Linked DNA regions of Homo sapiens: all the other regions are linked to region 4. The links come from fine-mapping of genetic effects on gene expression. A gene starts in region 4. Each other region holds a variant in brackets. All regions are shown on one strand. Distances are between the middles of the regions.

Region 1 (5,000 bases), 89 kb after region 4:
CTGACGTTTGCTGCCTTCCGTCTCTGCTTCGGCTACCTAAAAGGGAAGGGCCCCCTATCCTGTAATCACATGACTTACTTCACCTTGTCAATCACTGAGAAGATTCACCCTCCTTACCCTGCCCCCTTGTCTTGTATGCAATAAATATCAGTGGGCCTAGCCCTCTGGGACCACTACTGGTCCCCGCGTCTTGATGGTAGTGGTCCCCAGAGCCCAGCTGCTTTCTCTTTCTCTCTTTATCTTGTGTCTTTATTTATTACAATCCCTCATCTCCACACACAGGGAAAACACCCGCTAAGCCCCGTAGGGCTGGACCCTACACCTCCACACTGCCAGGATCCTGATGGACGTCCTCAGGGGCCTGCGGCGTCCCAGGAGCCCCAAACCCCAAACCCTTCCTCTGGGCTCTAAGTCCACAACTGTCAGACACCTCTGGGTCCCAACCACTTGCCCTTCTGCTTACAGGAAACTGGCTCCCCCAGGGGCTCTCCCAGGGGCCAGCCGTCCTGGGGGAGGGGAGGGGCGGGCACTCCACTCTCCCTGGGGCTGAGACCACCCGGCCCACCCCTTCTCCCCTCTCCCCTGCTGTACACAGGCAGCTCTGGCCCTGCCTGGGGCCCCTCCCACCACTCTCCTGGCCCCCTCCTTGGCCTCAGCTCAGGGGCCCTGGTTGTGTAACATCTTCTCAGATTGCAGCAGCTTAGAGGTCTTAATGTGACAATCACCAGCTTCTAATCCGAACACAAAGGCCGCCCCTGAGCACCCACCCCGCCCCGACGACCCTGGCTGGAGCCGCTGCAGAATTCCGTCAGAACCCGCCAGGCCGGAGCTGCTGCGGAAGGAACGGGGCCAGAACCCGCCTTCCTCCCCACACACGTGCTCCTCATTGCTCTTTCCGCGTGGCTGCAGGCCTCGTCAGAGCCTCCGGCTGGGAGGTTGGGACGGCGTGGAATTCTCTGCGCGTCTCTTACACACACCTGACCACGGACACTCAACGCCGTCACATGGCCGTTGGGGGAGCTGTCTCCGGGGCACCAAGGCTGGTGGCCTGCCTCACGCAGATTCGCCGCGTTCTCCTGCGTCGGAGTCACTCGGAGTCTGTGTTAACCCGCGGGCTGCGAGAACACGGCCTGCCTGGATGCGATCGGGTCTCATCAGATTTTCCTGCTGTCAGGTAGAGAAATCTAACAGGTTTCCGGCTTGTGAAAACTCCTGGCCTCCCAGCCACCACGCAGTGTGGGTTTTCCTCATGGCAGACAGGCAGTTCTTCGGGCCAGCTCGGGCCAGCCAGGTGTCTCACCGGCACCTGCTTTGCCTGGCTGTGTTGTATTTCACATATCTAAAGGCACAAAAGAAAAGCCTGAGGGGGATCTAAGAAGCCCCTCTCCCCATTGCTGGATAAACTGGAGGTGAACATGGCAGGGCAGGGCAGCAGCGGAGACGGCAGGACCCAGCCACGGAGCTCCAGGAACAAGTGCCCACGGCTGGCAGCAGGGCTGTCATGGGCAGGACGTGCCCGGCACTGGCCTGCTCCGGCCCAACGGTCACCGCAGCCTCCTGGAGCCGGACCCCCAGGGAAGAGCAGCCGCAGCCTCTTCCTCCTCCAACAGTCCTGGACTGTGTCCGCTTCCCCAGTCCCCAGAGGCCCAGCGGAAGGCAGTGTGGATGCAGAGGTCTTGCTCTCCCAGGGTCCAGAGGGCACTAGGGGGAGGAATTCCTCCTCCCCCCTCTGCAGGCACTACCAGCGGGTGTCCCTCAGCAGGCAAGGCCAGGCCTCTGCAGCCCCACAGCCCATGCTGAGCCCAGATCCTCACGGGAAGCCCGGGGCTCTGGGCTTTTCCCTGTCACCCGGCTGGCCTCTCCAACAACAGGAGTGAGCATTTAGACCACGACCAGGGCCGGAGGTCCTTAGGAAAGCAACGGACCCCAGCTCTGAGAATCACAAGTCCCTACCCAGGGTGGGACGTGGGGTCGTGCGGCCAGCACGGGCAGAAGCTTGAAAGCCCCCAAGTCACCCCTGGGCCAGCAGCAGCCACCCAGGGCAGGAGGGCAGGTGCACAGCCAGGGTCAGCGGGTCAGCAACTCACCCTGGCCTGCAGCCTACCCAGCACGGACCATGTGCCCAGTAGCAGAGCTAGAGGAACAAGCAGAAAAATGGCCGGCCCCCAACCAGAGGTCAGAGGGAAGGGCAGGAGCCGCCGGCTGACCTCGGGGGACGCGGGCACACGCTGTGGGGCTTCGTGTCAGGCACCCATGGGGCCTGGGGTCTGCTCTGTGCAACAGATACTGTCGGGCTGCCCATGGGTACCCAGCCTGGGATGGCAGAACAGTGGCCAGAGCCCAGGGACAGAGCCGGGCCTTGGCCAGTGAGGCAGGACAGCCCCAGGTGCCCCCAGGCACAGCAGGAAGTAGCCCAGGCAT[T/C]GGGCGGGACCCACTGGCTCTGCTGGGCCAGCATGAAAGTGCCCCTGATTTGTGCCTTCAAAGCATGCTGGATCGGCTGGACGCAGAGGCTCGGGCCTGTAATCCCAGCACTTTGGGAGGCTGAGGTGGGAGGCCGCTGGAGGCCAGGAGTTCAAGACCAGCCTGGGCAACACAGGGACACCTCATCTCTACAAAAAAAAAAATTTAAAAATTATCTGGGCATGGCCGGGTGCGGTGGCTCATGCCTGTGATCCCAGCACTTTGGGAGGCCGAGGCGGGCAGATCATGAGGTCAGGAGATCAAGACCATCCTGGCTAAGAAGGTGAAACCCCATCTCTACTAAAAATACAAAAAATTAGCCGGGCACGGTGGTGGACACCTGTAGTCCCAGTTACTCGGGAGGCTGAGGAAGGAGAATGGCGTGAACCCGGGAGGCGGAACTTGCAGTGAGCCAAGATCGCACCACTGCACTCCAGCCTGGGTGACAGAACAAGACTCTGTCTCAAAAAAAAAAAAAAAAATTATCTGGGCATGATGGCTCACACCTGTACTCCCAGCTACTCAGGAGGCTGAGGTGGGAGGATCACTTGAGCCCAGGAGGTGGAGGCTGCACTGAGCTGTGACTATACCCCTGCACTCCAGCCTGGGTGACAGAGTGAGATCCTGTCTCAAAAAAAAAAAATCATGCTGGACCAAGGCCCCCACCCATCCCCCGAGGACCTCCACCAGGAGGACGTGGCCTGTCCACACAGAGGCCCTGGCTAGGCAGGCGGGCTCTGCAGGGCAGCGGGTCAGAGGTATGTTTCCCCCTCTGAGCAGGATCCGAGGTCCTCGACACCCACAGGGACAGGAGGGGCCCGTGGATACACCTCGGTCAGGCCCAGCTGCTGAGGGCCTCCAGGGCCACCAAGGGTTATGAGTTGCCCGTTCCATGTCCAGGCCTGCCCTGTGCAGCCGGTGGGAGCTCAGCTGCCACCAGACAGTGCATGGGGACAGGAGGCACAGTGACAGTCACAGTAGTGTCAGGCCCGGCCACACTATGGCCCCAGTGGTCCAGGGGCTGTGGGAATGGGATGCACAGGCCCTTCACAATGGGCTCTGAAAGATGATTTTCCAGTAACAGAAGCAAAGAGAAGGTTGCAACCAATTCAGATTTTTACTGGACATTCATGACAGAATGAGATGTGCATCCAGCTGCATCGCCCAGCCCATCCGCTGCCCAGGGCAGCTGACGAGCAGAAACACACTCTGCAGTGGCCCTTGTCCGTGCCGGGGCCCTCGCCCGCAGCACCGCACGTTCTTTGTAGGAGCAGAACCCGAAACTCAGAGCACAGCTTGCCCTGATAACTGTCTTCCCAGCTGGCAGCCCTCTAGAAGATGTGGGAAATGACACATTCCTGTCCAGACACAAGCCACAGTCACCCCCCTCCCGAGGGCGTCCACGGCCTGAGGGACCCGGCTCCATTCAGCAGAGCCGCAGCGCTCAGGTCCTCTCGGCAACCCACGATCACGGCCCACGTGGTCCTGCCCGTGCCCCCGCTGCCCACGCCCCCTGCTGCCCACGCATGCCCCCCGCTGCCCACGCATGCCCGGGGAACGAGCAGCAAGCAGGCAGAACCACCACCCAGCGCCTGCTCCCCAGGCCGCAGCAGGCAAGATGGGGCCAGGGGCCACCACGCAAGTGAGACCCACCCCGCTTCCACGTGGGCAAAGCTGCCGCCACCCCGGCCTGTCCAGGATGGCTGCAGAGGCCCCACCTCGCCCTGCAAAGGAGGGTGCCTGCCACGCCCCCCACTCTGCCAGATGCTCCTGCCCGAGGGCCTGCGTCCGGCAGTTCCCCAGTGCGGGCTCCCAGTCCCTTCAACCAGGTGCCTGGTCCCCTGCCCACTGCCGGCTCATCCCTCAGAGCCACCGCAACACCCCCGCCCGAGAGCCACCCGCCGACCCCCAGTGGGCCTTGGCAGCAGCAGGAGTGGCCGTCAGGCCTGGCTGGGCAGCGTCTTGTAGGGGTTGAGGATGCCCTTGGGGTCCAGCAGGGCCTTGAGCTGCTGCATGAGCTGCAGGGCCCCCGGTGGCTTGCTGTAGCCCAGGACGTCCCTCTTCCTGAAGCCCACTCCGTGCTCCGCGCTGACGCTGCCCTGCTGCCCGGCCGTCCACTCGTACACGTGGGGCTCCAGGGCAGCCAGGAGCGAGGGGCTGAAGGCCTCCGCCGTCACATTGAGGTGCAGGTTACCATCTCCTGGAGGGACAAGGGCACATGGGTCAGGCTGGGCAGGGCAGCCCCCAGGACCCCACTCCTCCCCCAACAGCCCCTCCCAAGATCCCCTCCCCAGCAACCCCGAGACCCCCGGCTGAGCCTCACCCTCATGCCACTCGCCCTGGACGTGCCGACCCCTCCTCTGGGGCCGCTGCTACCTTGGCTTCTCCCTGCTTCTCTCCCCAAGTTCTCCCCCCTCTTCCTACTCCCTCAGCCCGGGGCTCCCATCTCCCCAACTTCTCCCCCCTCTTCCTACTCCCTCAGCCCGGGGCTCCCATCTCCCCAACTTCTCCCCCCTCTTCCTACTCCCTCAGCCCGGGGC
Region 2 (5,000 bases), 450 kb after region 4:
AAGCTGCTGAAGGCGATACACTGCCACACTGCCAAGCTCAGAAACCTGCTCCTGTGCCTACCTCCCCAGGCCTGTAGTCTCCACACAAGAGGCTGTGGCCACTATCCTAAAACATGCTCTCTTGGCACCTGTGCCCTTCCATGCTTCTGGCTGCTAAAGGCTCTTGTGGGTGCCTCCTCCTGCACTCAGCCTCTCAAATGTCAGTTCTTCAGGGGTTCATCCTGGGCTCTTCTCCCTTCCTGACCTGTATCTGCCCTCTGCCTAGCTGATTTCACCCACTGCACAGGTTAGCCCAGCCTACGTGCTGACAACACTCTCCCCAGCATCCCAAACCCACCCATCCACTAGGGACTGTCCTTCAGGTTGGACAGTTCGCAGCACAATGCCCAATTCTCCCTTCCTCATGTCCAGCCCCTGCTGTGTGTCTCAGCAGGGAGAGACTATCCCCAACCCTAGGAATGCAGACTGAACCAGTGACCGTTTCCTGCTGGGATGGCACACAACACTAGCAGAGGGCCCTTGGCTCCATGGGTCAAGGTCTGGATGTGACACTCAGAACAGCTGTACCTTCCTCACTACCAGCTAGAATAATGGCAACACTTGAAAGAGGCAAAGCCAAGGGTACCTGGGAGAATAGAGCAGGAGCTCTACCTGTACTGCCCTGCATGGAGGCCTCCTCAAGGTCAGGTCAGGCAAATGGATGAGAAGCACCGACTTACACACACAAGATGCCCCACACCGTCATGTCCGAGATGGAGCTCTGCACGCATGGTCTGACCGTATGTACAATGGAGTAAAACAGTGCATGCCATGATGTGGGTTTGAGGATTACACAAAAATGCTCGTAAGAGCTGTCCGTAATTGCCACTACAGCCTCTCCAGTATCAGTTGGCACTTCTACCTCCAGCCCTTGAACCCAAACTGCCCAAGCCATGCTGGAACCTCCCTCTCCTCTCTGCTTCCTTCTCCCTCCCTTCCCAGGCTGGTGCTTTGCCTGGAATGCTTCCTCCCTGGCTTTGTCCGCCTAGGTCCTCCCACGAGCCTCCTTGAGCCTGCCCTCGGCCTTCTTTCAGCTCACAGCGTATGAGCTATGCTCCCGCTACACTGCACACATTCTCATCTGTAGAAACGCATCTGTATATCTCATGACTGCCATGCTGTCGGGCACACAAAAGGCACTCCCCTGCAAACACAAGAGATCCCCCACACTGGGAGTGGTGAGGTGCACGAAATCCACACAATCTTACGGGGTAAGGTAAGATCTGTATGGGTAGGCACCTCAGTCTGTGCCGTTCAAACCAGCTCCCCAGTGCTGACAGCAGTGGTGGATGCATAGCTGGCACTCATACTTTGAAGGTGTGAAAGGGCAGCTGCCAGCAGGTCCCGGTAGAGCCTTAACGACACACATGAACATACATGATCTGACAAACAAACCTGCATCTCAACAGGATGTGTCACAAAGGCAAGGCTAAGTCCTCCTGACTCACTTTCACCAGCTGAGTGCTCCCCTTTGGTGACTAAAGCTCCCAGCCACCTGGGCCAGAGCCCAGAGCCCTTTCCCATACCGTTCTTCAATCCTTTTCCCCTTAGCTAGCACTCCTTCTCTAGGTCTCTATCACTTCCATCCAGAAAAACCCACCAGTGTCAAGTCTTAGAGAAATCAAAACAAGATGAGATGAAGGCCATGGGTGCCAGGCGATTCCCAATGCCCTGACACAGGCAGACACTGTTAGCCTCACACAGTCCCCTCCTCCTCTACCACAGCACAGTGTCTTCCCCGTAGAGGACTCTTTCTGCCACACTGCAGAGACACTGCAGCAGCTGACACCCCCCCAATAGCCACCCCATCCTGCTCAGTAGCATCCTCCTCCCCCAGACCCTGATGTCTTTTCCAGCACCTTTTTTTTTTTTTTTGAGACGGAGTTTCACTCTGGTGCCAGGCTGGAGTGTAGTGGCACGATCTTGTCTCACTGTAACCTCCACCTCCTGGGTTCAAGCGATTCTCCTGCCTCACCTCCTGAGTAGCTGGGACTACAGGTGCCTGCCATTAGCCCAGCTAATTTTTTGTATTTTTAGTAGAGATGGGGTCTCACTATGTTGGCCAGGCTGGTCTCAAACTCCTGACCTCAGGCAATCCACCTGCCTCAGCCTCCCAGGGTGCTGGGATAACAGGCATGAGCCACCGTGCCTGGCTTCTTCCAGCACCTTCTAAAGCAGCACATCGTGCAGGTGTGAAGGTGCTTCAGGCCAGGGCACCTGTGTGTCTGTGTGTCTGCCAAGCTGCCTCTGGCAGCAGCTGCACATCCTGAGGCCAGGAGCAATGGTCCTTATGTTAGAATCTTGCAGAAGTCACGACAACAGTCCTTTCTCGTTACACACTCTTTAGTCATTACTGTGGTGACAATGTGTTGACAGACAATTGTGATGACTTACACGTGCTTCTGATGGAATTCTAGTATCTTCTCAAGGCAGTGCTGCTGGCCAGGCAAATACTCGTTCACTTTGAGGTGCTCTCGGTCCAGCGTTTCATCGTAATCTCCTATTTCCGCTGAGATAGGTTAAAAGTAAGTAACTAATTTTTAAATAAACTACAAGCATTTGTATGTGTCATTGCATACATTAAAAGTAAAAAAAAATTATCCCAAATTTGTAGCAAAAGAATATATCCCTAAAAAAGCAAGATTTTTT[A/G]TTTAATTTTTCCAAATATTTTATGCTGTTAAAAGGCAAATATAATGGGAAGTGAAGAGGATTTCTTGAAGAACAAAGGCCTGATTAGTAACTCCAGGGAGGCAAACATTGATGAGTTTAATGTGTTTATTATTATTTTGACACAAGGTCTCGTTCTGTTGACCAGGCTGGAGTGCAATGGTGCAATCACTACTCACTGCAGCCTCAACCTTCTGGACTCAAGCAATCTGCCCGCCTCAGCCTCCTAAGTAGCTGGGACTATAGGTAAGCACCATCATGCCCAGCTAATTTTTGTATTTTTTGTAGAGATAAGGTTTTGCCACATTGCCCAGGCTGGTCTCAAACTCCTGGACTTAAGCAATCCTCCTGCCTTGGCCTCCCAAATGTGCTGGGAATATAGGCATGAGCTACTGCACCTGGACTACTATTATTTTTAAACTACACCTTAAACCTAAATTGTCTCAAGATTATCATGATCAGGCTGAAGTATTTTATTTATTTTAGGATAATGTATTTTAAATGATTTTTTTCCTTCAGACCTTCTCAAATTTCTTGATGAATAATGTCTCTGTCTAATTTCATGTATTTTAAGGCCACAATGTCTTAATAACATAAAGTTCAATAATTTAAAGCAATATGCTTTTATTTTTAGACAATCTCATATTCACAGAGAAGTTACAAGCACAGTACAAGAGTTTTTTCTCCTTTGAGCCATTTGAGAGTGAGTTGCTAACATGTTACTTGCCATACTTCAGTATGGACTTCCTATAAACTATGACATTTGATACGGTTTGGCTGTGTTCCCACCCAAATCTCATCTTGAATTATAACTCCCACAAGTCCCACTTACTGTGGGAGGGACCCAGTGGGAGGTAACTGACTCATGGGGGCGGATCTTTTCCGTGCTGTTCTTGTAATAGTGAGACTTTCATGAGATCTGATGATTTTACAAGGGGCCATTTCCCTGTACAAGCCTCTCTCGCTGCCGCCACATCTCTATCAGCAGTGTGGAAATGGACTAATACAATATTCTTACCCGCAGCCTTGTAAAACTACCCAGATCAGGAACAGGGCCACGATCTGAGGCTCCATCCCAGATGTGGACCCTAGTCATATTTTACCAACTGCCCAATTATGTTTTTTATAGCAAAAAGATCTGGTTCAGTCATACATTGCATTCGTTGCCATGTGTCTACCTGAGAAGTCTTTCAGCCAAATGAGTAAGAACCAAAGTCACTTTGAAAACTTTTATTAATCAACACGTCCCCTGGTGGAGGATAGCAAACCCATAATAAAATTTATTATTTGAAGAAGGTATGTCTGGGGAAGGACCAAGGAAGCTGCAAATAACCTATATACTTATTAATTCCTAAAATTTTGGAACTTTCTATGTCATATTTCCTGGATTCAAATTTCAGAAACATTAGTTCTGTGCTAGCTGTGGTCCCACCTCTAGTCCAGGAGCAATGTGGGTATTTCTGTTTTTCTATTCCCATCGCTGGGGGCTCGGCAAGGTGCCAGAACCTCCTCTTACACTTCTCATGGTTTATTTTTGAAGTAACTATAATTCTTGACACAGTTCTGAACCATCTCTTGATCTGTGTGAGATACTGAAGAAATGTCTTCTTTTTCCTTCATGGCTAATGCTTTACTAATCTGAGAGGACTGTAACTTTTATCCCAGTGAGGCCCTTTCCAGGGTTTGCTCAGAGTTTGGTTTATATTCTGACTCTTAGACTGAATATGCATTGCTGGTAAAATGCACAAAGGCATAAATGAGAGACAACCCAAAAGAAGGAACGTGGCTACAGATTTTGGCCTTGGCCTGTGTTTGCTACGTGGAAACTATTTGCCTCAAGGAGTTCCACTTTACAGAAGTTAATCTGTAGCTTATAAAAAACACTGAAGTTGAAACACCTCATTCTATGGTCAGGCTCACTAACTAGGCAAATACATCAGCAACTAATTGTAGTTCTGAGTGCGGGTATATCTGTGCCATGGTCAGTGAATGCTCCCCGCTGGCGGGGAGATACTCACACTGCAGGAGATGGGACGTGAGAAGGGCCGCTGTGGTGTCAGCACAGGTCAAACGCTCTTCCAGCAGGTCTCTCTTAAGTTGCAAGGCAAACAAGTATCTAGAAGAGAGTTCAAAATAAGACAGAGATCAATTCCAAATGTTCTCTGAATGTAACATAGACATGTCTCCACAGCAAGACAGCAAATGAGCCCTGGGAAGTGGCAGTGACCCAACAGTGAGCAAAACGCAAGGCGGTCACGAAACAGCAAAGTCACAAAAGGCCTTTCATGAAACAA
Region 3 (5,000 bases), 37 kb after region 4:
CGGGCCTGGTCCCCGCATCGCTGTGCAGTGATAGCAGCTGACGGTCTCGCTTTGGGAGAAACGGGAGATAGATACACACACACTGACATTTACATTTCACTTGTGTGCGTTCGGGGAAAGCTGCGGAATGAATGGGACGGAACGACACTCTGGTCTGAGCAGGTAAAGCAGGTGCTTGGGGCCACGAGAACTTTTTTAATCACATCAAGTGGAACACGCTTGAGACAACGGTTTCGGAAGCCACGCAGGTGCGCTGCGAGATCGTTTCTACCACCTGAGAACCGTCAACAACAGAGGACTTGCCGGGCCTTGATCTCCACATCTGGAAAACAGACACGTTCTCCACCCCGCGGGCCTTTATTTCATACTAAACGGAACGACGCGCTTGAAGCACGTGGCGTGGAGCGAGCCTTCTGCGCATGCGCAAATGCTTCCTCCTCGCCCCTCTGCGCACGCGGCAGGAGCAGAAAGTCAGACAAAGAGAACGTCGTGGAGAAGAACACAAAGGGAGACAGAGACACAGAGAAAGAGAGAGACAGAGACACAGGGAGACAGAGACACAGAGAGAGACACAGAGACACAGAGAGAGACACAGAGACACGACAGAGACACAGAGTCAGAGACAGAGAGACAGAGATACAGAGACAGAGAGACACAGAGACAGAGACACAGAGAAAGAGAGAGACAGAGACACAGGGAGACAGAGACACAGAGAGAGACACAGAGACACAGAGAGAGACACAGAGAGACAGAGACACAGAGTCAGAGACAGAGAGACAGAGATACAGAGACAGAGAGAGACACAGAGACAGAGACACAGAGAAAGAGAGAGACAGAGACACAGGGAGACAGAGACACAGAGAGAGACACAGAGACACAGAGAGAGACACAGAGAGACAGAGACACAGAGTCAGAGACAGAGAGACAGAGATACAGAGACAGAGAGAGACACAGAGACAGAGACACAGAGAAAGAGAGAGACAGAGACACAGGGAGACAGAGACACAGAGAAAGAGAGAGACAGAGACACAGAGAGAGAGACAGAGACACAGGGAGACAGAGACACAGAGACAGAGACACAGAGACAGACACACAGAGACAGACACACAGAGAGACAGAGACACAGAGTCAGAGACAGAGAGACAGAGACACAGAGACAGAGACACAGAGAAAGAGAGACAGAGACACAGAGACAGACTCAGACACAGAGAGAGACAGAGACACGGAGTCAGAGACATAGAGAGACAGAGATACAGAGTCAGAGACAGAGACACAGAGACAGAGACACAGAGAGAGACAGGGACAGAAAGCGTCAGAGACACAAAGAGACAGAGACAGACTCAGAGACAGAGAAAGAGAGACAGAGACACAGAGACAGACTCAGAGACACAGAGAAGAGACACGGAGTCAGAGAGACAGAGACACAGAGTCAGAGACACAGAGAGACAGAGACACAGAGTCAGAGACACAGACAGACACAGAGTCAGAGACACAGAGAGACAGAGACACAGAGTCAGAGACACAGAGGGAGACAGAGTCACGGAAAGAGACAGACACAAACACAAAGAGAGACAGCCCAAGACACAGAGACAGAGAGAGACACAAACACAAAGAGAAACAGAGACAGACACAGAGACAGAGAGACAAGGACAGAGAAAGGATGGGGGAGGGAGAGAGGGAGCAAGAGAGTAACTCCCAGCTGATTAAACACAGCAAAGAGAGAATTCGTGAACTAGAAAAAAAAAAAAGCCAAGGAAAACCAACCAGAATGCAGCACAGACACGAACGAGAAGGAGAGTGCACAGCAGAGGGCCATGCGGATGGTGAGGGGTCCCACACCTGCGTCCTGGAGCCCAGAAGGCGGGAGCAGGGTGGGACCCTGGTGGCCACACAGCTGTTTCCCGAGGCTGCATAGCAAATCACACAGACCTGGAGGTTGAAACGACACAAATGCATCCCCAGAAGTTCTGGGGGCCGGGGGTCTGACATGGCCTCCCCGGGCTAACATCAAGGGGTCCGCAAGGCTGGTTCCTCTGCAGGCTGTCCGGGCTTCGCTTCCCGTCTTTTCCAGCTTCCAGAGGCCACCGGCTCCTCAGCTGTGGCCCCTCCTCCATCTTCAAACCCAGCTCCAAGGCCTC[C/T]TCCCTCCTCTCCCACCCTTTGTCCCCTCCCATAAGGACCCTGGTGAGACCCTGGACCCACCCAGATGACCAGGATGATTTCTCACCTCAAGACCCTCAGCCGGCCCCCTCGGCGCAGCCCTTCGCCATGACGTCATGGTGCAGGCCCCGGAATGAGGATGCAGACGGCTTCCGGGCCCTTGTTTGGCCTATCAGACATCAAGGCTGTTTAACATCTTCCTGGAGGTCCTTGCCAGCCCAGTAAGCCAGGACAAGAGGTAAAAGGATGAGGGTTAGGAAGGAACCACAGAGACATCCTGCCTCCACGACAGAGCCCTGACCCCAGCACTGGCACCGTGTTCCCCGCCACGTTCCTGAGCCACTGCCCGGCCCAGCCTGGGCACAGCAGCAGGAGTTGCCCCTAAGGCTCAGGGTGTGCGTTCGCCCCCCTCACCCTACTGTGAAGGAACACCGGAGGCTGGGTGATTCTTAAGGAAAAGAAGTTTAATCGGCTCCCGGTTCTGCAGGCTCTACAGGAAGCGTGGTGCTGGCATCTGCTCGGCTTCCGGGGAGGCCCCAGGAAACCCACAATCCTGGTGGAAGAGAAGGGGGAGCAGGCACGTCACATGGCGAAAGCAGCAGCAAGGTGGGGAGGTGCCGCACACCTTTAAACAGCCAGGTCTCGGGGGAACTCGCTGTCATGAGGACAGCACCGAGGCGATAGCAGTAAACCCTTCCTGAGAGTCCACCCCATGATCCAGTCACCTCCCACCAGGCCCCACCTCCAACACTGGGAATTACAATTCGACATAAGATTTGGGAGGGGACACAGATCGAAACCATACAGGGGTGGAAGGAAGGAAAAGAGGCTGGGAGAGCAGCCATCGGGAATGTGGAGGTGGGGCAGGGGCTCAGGAGCCGGTTGGGTGCCGGGGAGCCGCCCGTGGTGGGAGGAATCTAGGGGGCTGGTCTCTCTCGAGGCACAGGCCTCCCAGGATGCCAGAGGAACTCCCAGTGCAGCAGGGGGGAAGGACTGTCCCCAGGCACAGCGACCCCCCCACCAGCAGACACCAGATGTCCTGAGCCTGCCACAGCTGGGGCAGTGGCAGGAGGGCAGGAGGAAGGGCTCAACCTGCCCTGAGCCAGGCAGCCCCCCCGCCACACCCTCTCCCAGCCTGGGGCATCACACCTGGCAGAGCCTTCCCCGGTCCTGAGCAGCTGCCCAGACCTGGAGGAGTCAGGGCCTCGGAGCCCTGGGCCCCACCTGAGGAGGCCACGGCTGCTAGGAGGGGCCCTTGGCAGGGCCAGCTCCGGCCCCTTCTTCAGACCTGACCCAACCCCAGCTCAGAGGGTGCTCCAGCCGCAGACAGCCCGAGACATCGAGAGGCTCCACCACGGCGACCGGAGCTCCTGGGGACCTCGAGCCCAAGTCTGTCTGACACAGGCCGAGGCTGCACATGGCCGGGCAGTGACGGCCAGGATCCCCCGGGGTCTGAGGCCCATGTGGACAGACGGACGGACGGACAGACGGCAAAGGCAGGAAGGTGTGCTGCTTCCCAGGCTGCCGCAACAAATCTCACCGACTGGCGGCTGAAGCAATGCAAATGCGTCCTCTCGCGGCTCTGGAGGCCGTCTGAAGCCAAGGGTGACAGGCCCGCACCCTCTCTGAAGGCTCCAGCGCAGGGTCCTTCAGCCTCTTCCAGCTCTGAGCAGCCCCCGTGGCTGGTGGCGGCATCACTGCAGCCTCTGCCTCCACCTTCACATGGCTCCTCCCTGCGTCTGTGACTCACAAGGACGGACGTCACTGGGCTAAACCCACTGCAATCCAGTATGACCTCCTCTTACCTCCATCACGTCTGCAAAGGCCCTACTTGCAAATAAGGTAGCAAAGTCTGAGCTTCCAGGGGGACATGAAGCTGGGGACGCCGCTCACCCCAGTATAGAAGAGAATGACGAAGAATGGGCCATGCAGAGCTGCAGTGGGCTCCACGGCTTCCAGAACCCCAGAGAGGCCTGTGGCTCCTTTGCTTCAGATCTGAAGGCAGAAGAGTGGACTGTGATGACCCTGCTAGCCACGAGCCAGGACACACGCATGACAGGATGCACCCAGCACACGACCTACACACGGGCCACGAGCCAGGACACACGCATGAGAGGATGCACCCAGCACACGACCTACACACGGGCCACGAGCCAGGACACACGCATGACAGGATGCACCCAGCACACAACCTACACACACACCACGAGGCAGGACACACGCATGACAGGATGCACCCAGCACACGACCTACACACAGGCCACGAGCCAGGACACACGCATGAGAGGATGCACCCAGCACACAACCTACACACACACCACGAGGCAGGACACACGCATGACAGGATGCACCCAGCACACGACCTACACACGGGCCATGAGCCAGGACACATGCATGAGAGGATGCACCCAGCACACAACCTACACACACACCACGAGGCAGGACACACGCATGACAGGATGCACCCAGCACACGACCTACACACGGGCCATGAGCCAGGACACATGCATGAGAGGATGCACCCAGCACACAACCTACACACACACCACGAGGCAGGACACACGCATGACAGGATGCACCCAGCACACGACCTACACACGGGCCACGAGCCAGGACACACACGACAGGATGCACCCAGCACGCAACCTACACACGGGCCACGAGCCAGGACACACGCATGACAGGATGCACCCAGCACATGACCTACACACGGGCCACGAGCCAGGACACACGCATGAGAGGATGCACCCAGCACGCGACCTACACACGGGCCACGAGCCAGGACACACGCATGAGAGGATGCACCCAGAACACAACCTACACACACACCACGAGGCAGGACA
Region 4 (5,000 bases):
GACCATCAGGCAGCCCTGGCCTCAGTGGCCGCAGTCCCCTGGCTCCACGCTGGGCCCACCCCACCAGGTCTCCTCTCCCATGGCCCAGGGGCCTTCAGTGGGACTGAGAGGAGGAGGGAAGGAGAGTGGGTGACAGGGAAGAACTGCAGGGAGAGAGGAGAGGGGTGGGAGAAGGAGAAGGAAGGAAGGGGTAGGATGGAAGCTGGGTTTCTCCCTGTGCCCGCCCCCTACTCCAGGACATGTGTCCAAGCCCTGGCAGGTGGAATTTTGGGGGCAGGGCCTTGGTGGTGAGGAGACCTTCCAGGGGTCTGATAGCATCTCCCATCTCAGAGCCCACCTCCTGGGCCCAGCCTCCCCTCCAGCCCACACAGTGGCATTCCCAGTCCTCAGAGGACAGCTTCGTCCCACAAAGCTCAGAGCCTTGAGGAAGGCCCACTGCTGCCCTGGAACAGAGACAGCATTCAACAGAGGTTGGAACAAGGCTCTACAGGGCTGGGGGCAGAGGGAGGTTCTGTCCAGAATCTGCCTTCAGGACAAGTACAGCCAGCAGGGGCAGCTTAGCCACTTATCCACTGCCTGGGCGAGGCACAGGGCTATGGAGGCACCTACCAACCAACAGTTCTCCAGCCCCAGAGCCCCAGCCCCTGAGGCACAAGGGTGGGTGTGCCAGGAGACAGTTGCTGCGGGCCACCTTAGCTGTCTGGCAGCACAGTGGGTGCTGCCAGGCTCCCTGGGGGCCCCCCGCCAAGCCCACCTGGCCAGCTGGGCCCCCCCCACCTCCCCACCAAGCCACCCACACAGCCTCACATCTCTGAGACCCGGGAGTGGCCCTTTGTTCATAAACGAGAGCTTCCTCGCCGTGGCCGCGCCTCGCAGACATCATCTTTGATGCTCTTTTTCCACTGTTTCGGTGCTTTAATGTTTTCCCTTCAGAGCCGGGCCGAGTGTCTCTCGGAGCCAGGCAGCCGCGCCAGCTGTCAGGCGGTTTCTAGCCTCGCTTCGGTTATTTTAAGCTGATGAGCCTGACGCATCTCATCACTAATATCAGCAGTTTCATTTCTCCTGTTTTCCATTCGCTGTAATAAAATGCTCAGCACAGAATACAAGGAGATAAGCAAGCCATTTCACAAACGCCGGGCCGCCAGCCAGGCCCAGGCACTGGACCCCCTGAACCACCCCACCCTGGCACGAGTGGGCTGGAGGGCAGGGCCCCGGGGAAGAAGGTCAAGGCTGGAAGGGGAGGTCAGCCTCACAGCCAGCCCCTGCCACCGCCCCAGCCCCCCCGTCAGGCTGTTGCAGGCATCACACGGTGGAAAGATCTGGAACTGTGGCCATGGTGTGAGGCCATCCACAAGGTGGAAGCTTTGAGGGGGAGCCGATTAGCCATGGACAGTTGTCATTCAGTAGGGTCACCTGTGCCCCAGCGAAGGGGGATGGGCCGGGAAGGCAGAGGCCAGGCACCTGCCCCCAGCAGGGGCAGAGGCTGTGGGCAGCCGGGAGGCTCCCAGAGGCTCCGACAGAATGGGAGTGGGGTTGAGCCCACCCCTCACTGCAGCCCAGGAACCTGAGCCCAGAGGGGGCCACCCACCTTCCCCAGGCAGGGAGGCCCGGCCCCCAGGGAGATGGGGGGGATGGGGGAGGAGAAGGGCCTGCCCCCACCCGGCAGCCTCAGGAGGGGCAGCTCGGGCGGGATATGGAAAGAGGCCACAGCAGTGAGCAGAGACACAGAGGAGGAAGGGGCCCTGAGCTGGGGAGACCCCCACGGGGTAGGGCGTGGGGGCCACGGGCCCACCTCCTCCCCATCTCCTCTGTCTCCCTGTCTCTGTCTCTCTCTCCCTCCCCCACCCTCTCCCCAGTCCTACCCCCTCCTCACCCCTCCTCCCCCAGCACTGCCTCTGTCACTCTCGCCCACGTGGATGTGGAGGAAGAGGGGGCGGGAGCAAGGGGCGGGCACCCTCCCTTCAACCTGACCTGGGACAGTTTCCCTTCCGCTCACCTCCGCCTGAGCAGTGGAGAAGGCGGCACTCTGGTGGGGCTGCTCCAGGCATGCAGATCCCACAGGCGCCCTGGCCAGTCGTCTGGGCGGTGCTACAACTGGGCTGGCGGCCAGGATGGTTCTTAGGTAGGTGGGGTCGGCGGTCAGGTGTCCCAGAGCCAGGGGTCTGGAGGGACCTTCCACCCTCAGTCCCTGGCAGGTCGGGGGGTGCTGAGGCGGGCCTGGCCCTGGCAGCCCAGGGGTCCCGGAGCGAGGGGTCTGGAGGGACCTTTCACTCTCAGTCCCTGGCAGGTCGGGGGGTGCTGTGGCAGGCCCAGCCTTGGCCCCCAGCTCTGCCCCTTACCCTGAGCTGTGTGGCTTTGGGCAGCTCGAACTCCTGGGTTCCTCTCTGGGCCCCAACTCCTCCCCTGGCCCAAGTCCCCTCTTTGCTCCTGGGCAGGCAGGACCTCTGTCCCCTCTCAGCCGGTCCTTGGGGCTGCGTGTTTCTGTAGAATGACGGGTCAGGCTGGCCAGAACCCCAAACCTTGGCCGTGGGGAGTCTGCGTGGCGGCTCTGCCTTGCCCAGGCATCCTTGGTCCTCACTCGAGTTTTCCTAAGGATGGGATGAGCCCCATGTGGGACTAACCTTGGCTTTACGACGTCAAAGTTTAGATGAGCTGGTGATATTTTTCTCATTATATCCAAAGTGTACCTGTTCGAGTGAGGACAGTTCTTCTGTCTCCAGGATCCCTCCTGGGTGGGGATTGTGCCCGCCTGGGTCTCTGCCCAGATTCCAGGGCTCTCCCCGAGCCCTGTTCAGACCATCCGTGGGGGAGGCCTTGGCCTCACTCTCCCGGATCGAGGAGAGAGGGAGCCTCTTCCTGGGCTGCCCGTGACCCTGGGCCCTCTGTGTACACTGTGACCACAGCCCGCTCCTGGACCCTCTGTGCCCGGCTGGCCCTCTGTGCCCAGCCAGCCTGCACCTGGGGATGCCAAGGCCTGGGGAGGGTGGTTTCACCCAGGCCAAGCCTAAGACAGTCCCTCTGGGCCCTGCTGGGTACCGGGGTGTGACACCACTGGGAGGACAAGATGAGGGGCACCCCTGGGGCCGCCCTGACACCCCCTCGAGGCTCCTGCCCCGGGGGTCCTGGTGCCCCTTCACTGTGGCAGGCGACTGGGGGTTCCCCACCTCGGCCCCTCTCCCGGGGCCTGCTCCCCGGCACCTGAGGCAGCATCCTTGTCAGGGCCGTGCCTTCCTGCCTCAGCGCCACCTCTTAAGGTTGGCCCGTGGGTCACTCAGGACTCAGAACTGGAGATTCTGGGCAAAAGGCAAAGAGCAAAGGGCCAAAAGGCATCCCAGGGAGACGACTGCGGGGGAACCAGAGGGCAGAGGGGCGCTCGTCACAGGGGAGGGGGAGCTGAGCGAGGCAGGAGGGGAGCCGAGCCTCTCCCCCCGTGTCCCGGCTCTTCAGGCACGCCCTCGGGACGCCACCCTCCCCGACCCAGGCGGGAAAGATAAGAGCAAGGTGTCCGCAGCCTGACACTCGTGCCTCAGGTGCCCGCGCTTGTGCCGGACAAGACTCTCACAGGTGGCATGCCTCGGTTTCCCCACTGGTAACAGCACAGGGCACTCAGCAAGGCGCAGTGGGCATGACTGGGGTCCTGTGGGTCCTGACCCAGATGTGGCCACCCCGGCCGCAGTGGTCTTCATTCCAGGATGCCTCTTTTCCCTCCTGATCTATTCACTGCGTTCGCCATTCGGTCATTCCCGGGGCCACCACTCCCACCTCAGGTGTGTGCTTCCCTTGTGTTTTATGAGATATCCCCAACCCGGCTGCTTATTGGCCCCGTCCGAGGGCAGGAGCATAAATAAGAGCCTCTGCTTTGGCGTGGGACCACTGTGAGCTCCAGTCAGCGCTGCCACTGCTGAGCTCTGGGCCTTCGACAGGACTTGGCCCCTTACTGACTTCTCCGTGTGCTTTGGGTCATGGGTGAGGACGCCTCCTGGCAAGGCTGCGTCCTGAGGATTAAATCGGGTCATCTGTGAAAACTACCCAGCCCAGCCCCTGACACTTTTTTGTTTGTTTCTTTTAGTGACAGGGTCTTGCTCTGTCACCCAGGCTGGAGTGCAGTGGTGTGATCTCGGCTCACTCGACCTCCGGGGCTCAAGCAATTCTCCCACCTCTGCCTCCAGAGTAGCTGGGACTATAGGCACGTGCCACCCTGCCAGGCTAATTTCTTCCATTTTTTTTAGAGACAGGGTCTCGCTATGTTCCCCAGGCTGGGCTCAAATGGTCCTCCCACCTCAGCCTCCCCAAGTACTGGGATTACAGGCATAAGCCACTGCATCTGGCCTCCATGACACATATTTTTAAAGTCTGATTTTTAAAGTCAAACTTTTGAAGTCAGATTTTAAACGGACTATTTTGAAAAATATACAAAAACGTTTAAAAACAATGAATATCCCTCACCTAGAATCAATAACTAAGAATATTGACACATTTGCTTTGGGGACTGGGCGGCTGGAGCTGCCATGACAAAGCTCCGCCGACCGAGTGGCTTTTAAACAGAGCCTGCCCTCTCGCCGACTGAGGGCTGGACGTGCAGGATGGAGCTCCGCAGGGTCGGCTCCCCTGTGCTCTGAGGGGCTCTGCTCAGCCTCTCCCGGCTGTGGCTTAAAAACAGAGCCTGTCCTCCCGCCGTGGGGGGCTGGACATGCAGGACCGAGGGGCCACAGGGTCGGCTCCCTGTGCTCCGAGAGGGCTCTGCTCAGCTTCTCCTGGCTGGGGGGTTTTGTGGCCACCCTCTGTGTTCCTGGGTTCAGAAGCATCCCCCAGGCTCTGCCTTCATCTCTGCACGGGTGACTCTGTACAGGAAGCCAGGCCTGCTGGTCAATGGCCACCCAGCCCTGTGCCCTCATCTTACCTAGTCCCAGCTGCCGTCACCCTATTCCTAATAAGGCCGCCTTCTGAGGTCATGGGGTTAGGACTTCCACATAGGAATCTGTGGGGACACGGTTCGGCCC

Evidence for each region. PIP is the estimated chance that this variant, and not a neighbour inherited with it, causes the effect.
Region 1: its variant is fine-mapped to the expression of PDCD1 in whole blood (TOPMed, PIP 0.95).
Region 2: its variant is fine-mapped to the expression of PDCD1 in minor salivary gland (GTEx, PIP above 0.99).
Region 3: its variant is fine-mapped to the expression of PDCD1 in monocytes (Quach 2016, PIP 0.95). The same link has a PIP of 0.9 or more in monocytes after Pam3CSK4 and monocytes after R848.

The regions. Positions count from the first base shown.
Region 1 is chr2:241,767,370-241,772,369 of GRCh38, reverse strand. It overlaps D2HGDH (D-2-hydroxyglutarate dehydrogenase), which reads right to left. Exons shown (of 10, transcript NM_152783.5): 10 at 3,559-4,660. The coding sequence ends at 4,401. Among named protein-coding and RNA genes, the nearest start is that of GAL3ST2, 7.0 kb to the left of the region's middle. RefSeq lists an enhancer at 695-1,607. The variant T/C (reference allele first, on the strand shown) is at 2,422.
Region 2 is chr2:241,410,855-241,415,854 of GRCh38, reverse strand. FARP2 (FERM, ARH/RhoGEF and pleckstrin domain protein 2) reads right to left here. Exons shown (of 27, transcript NM_014808.4): 6 at 4,725-4,822; 7 at 2,434-2,548. Among named protein-coding and RNA genes, the nearest start is that of FARP2, 57 kb to the right of the region's middle. The variant A/G (reference allele first, on the strand shown) is at 2,689.
Region 3 is chr2:241,819,358-241,824,357 of GRCh38, reverse strand. No RefSeq gene overlaps it. Among named protein-coding and RNA genes, the nearest start is that of NEU4, 13 kb to the right of the region's middle. The variant C/T (reference allele first, on the strand shown) is at 2,139.
Region 4 is chr2:241,855,885-241,860,884 of GRCh38, reverse strand. It overlaps PDCD1 (programmed cell death 1), which reads left to right and starts at 1,991. Exons shown (of 5, transcript NM_005018.3): 1 at 1,991-2,122. The coding sequence starts at 2,047. LOC105373977 (a long non-coding RNA gene) reads right to left here. Exons shown (of 2, transcript XR_924076.2): 2 at 4,609-5,000. It overlaps LOC124908032 (a long non-coding RNA gene), which reads right to left and starts at 1,813. Exons shown (of 2, transcript XR_007088436.1): 1 at 808-1,813. RefSeq lists an enhancer at 1,823-2,785.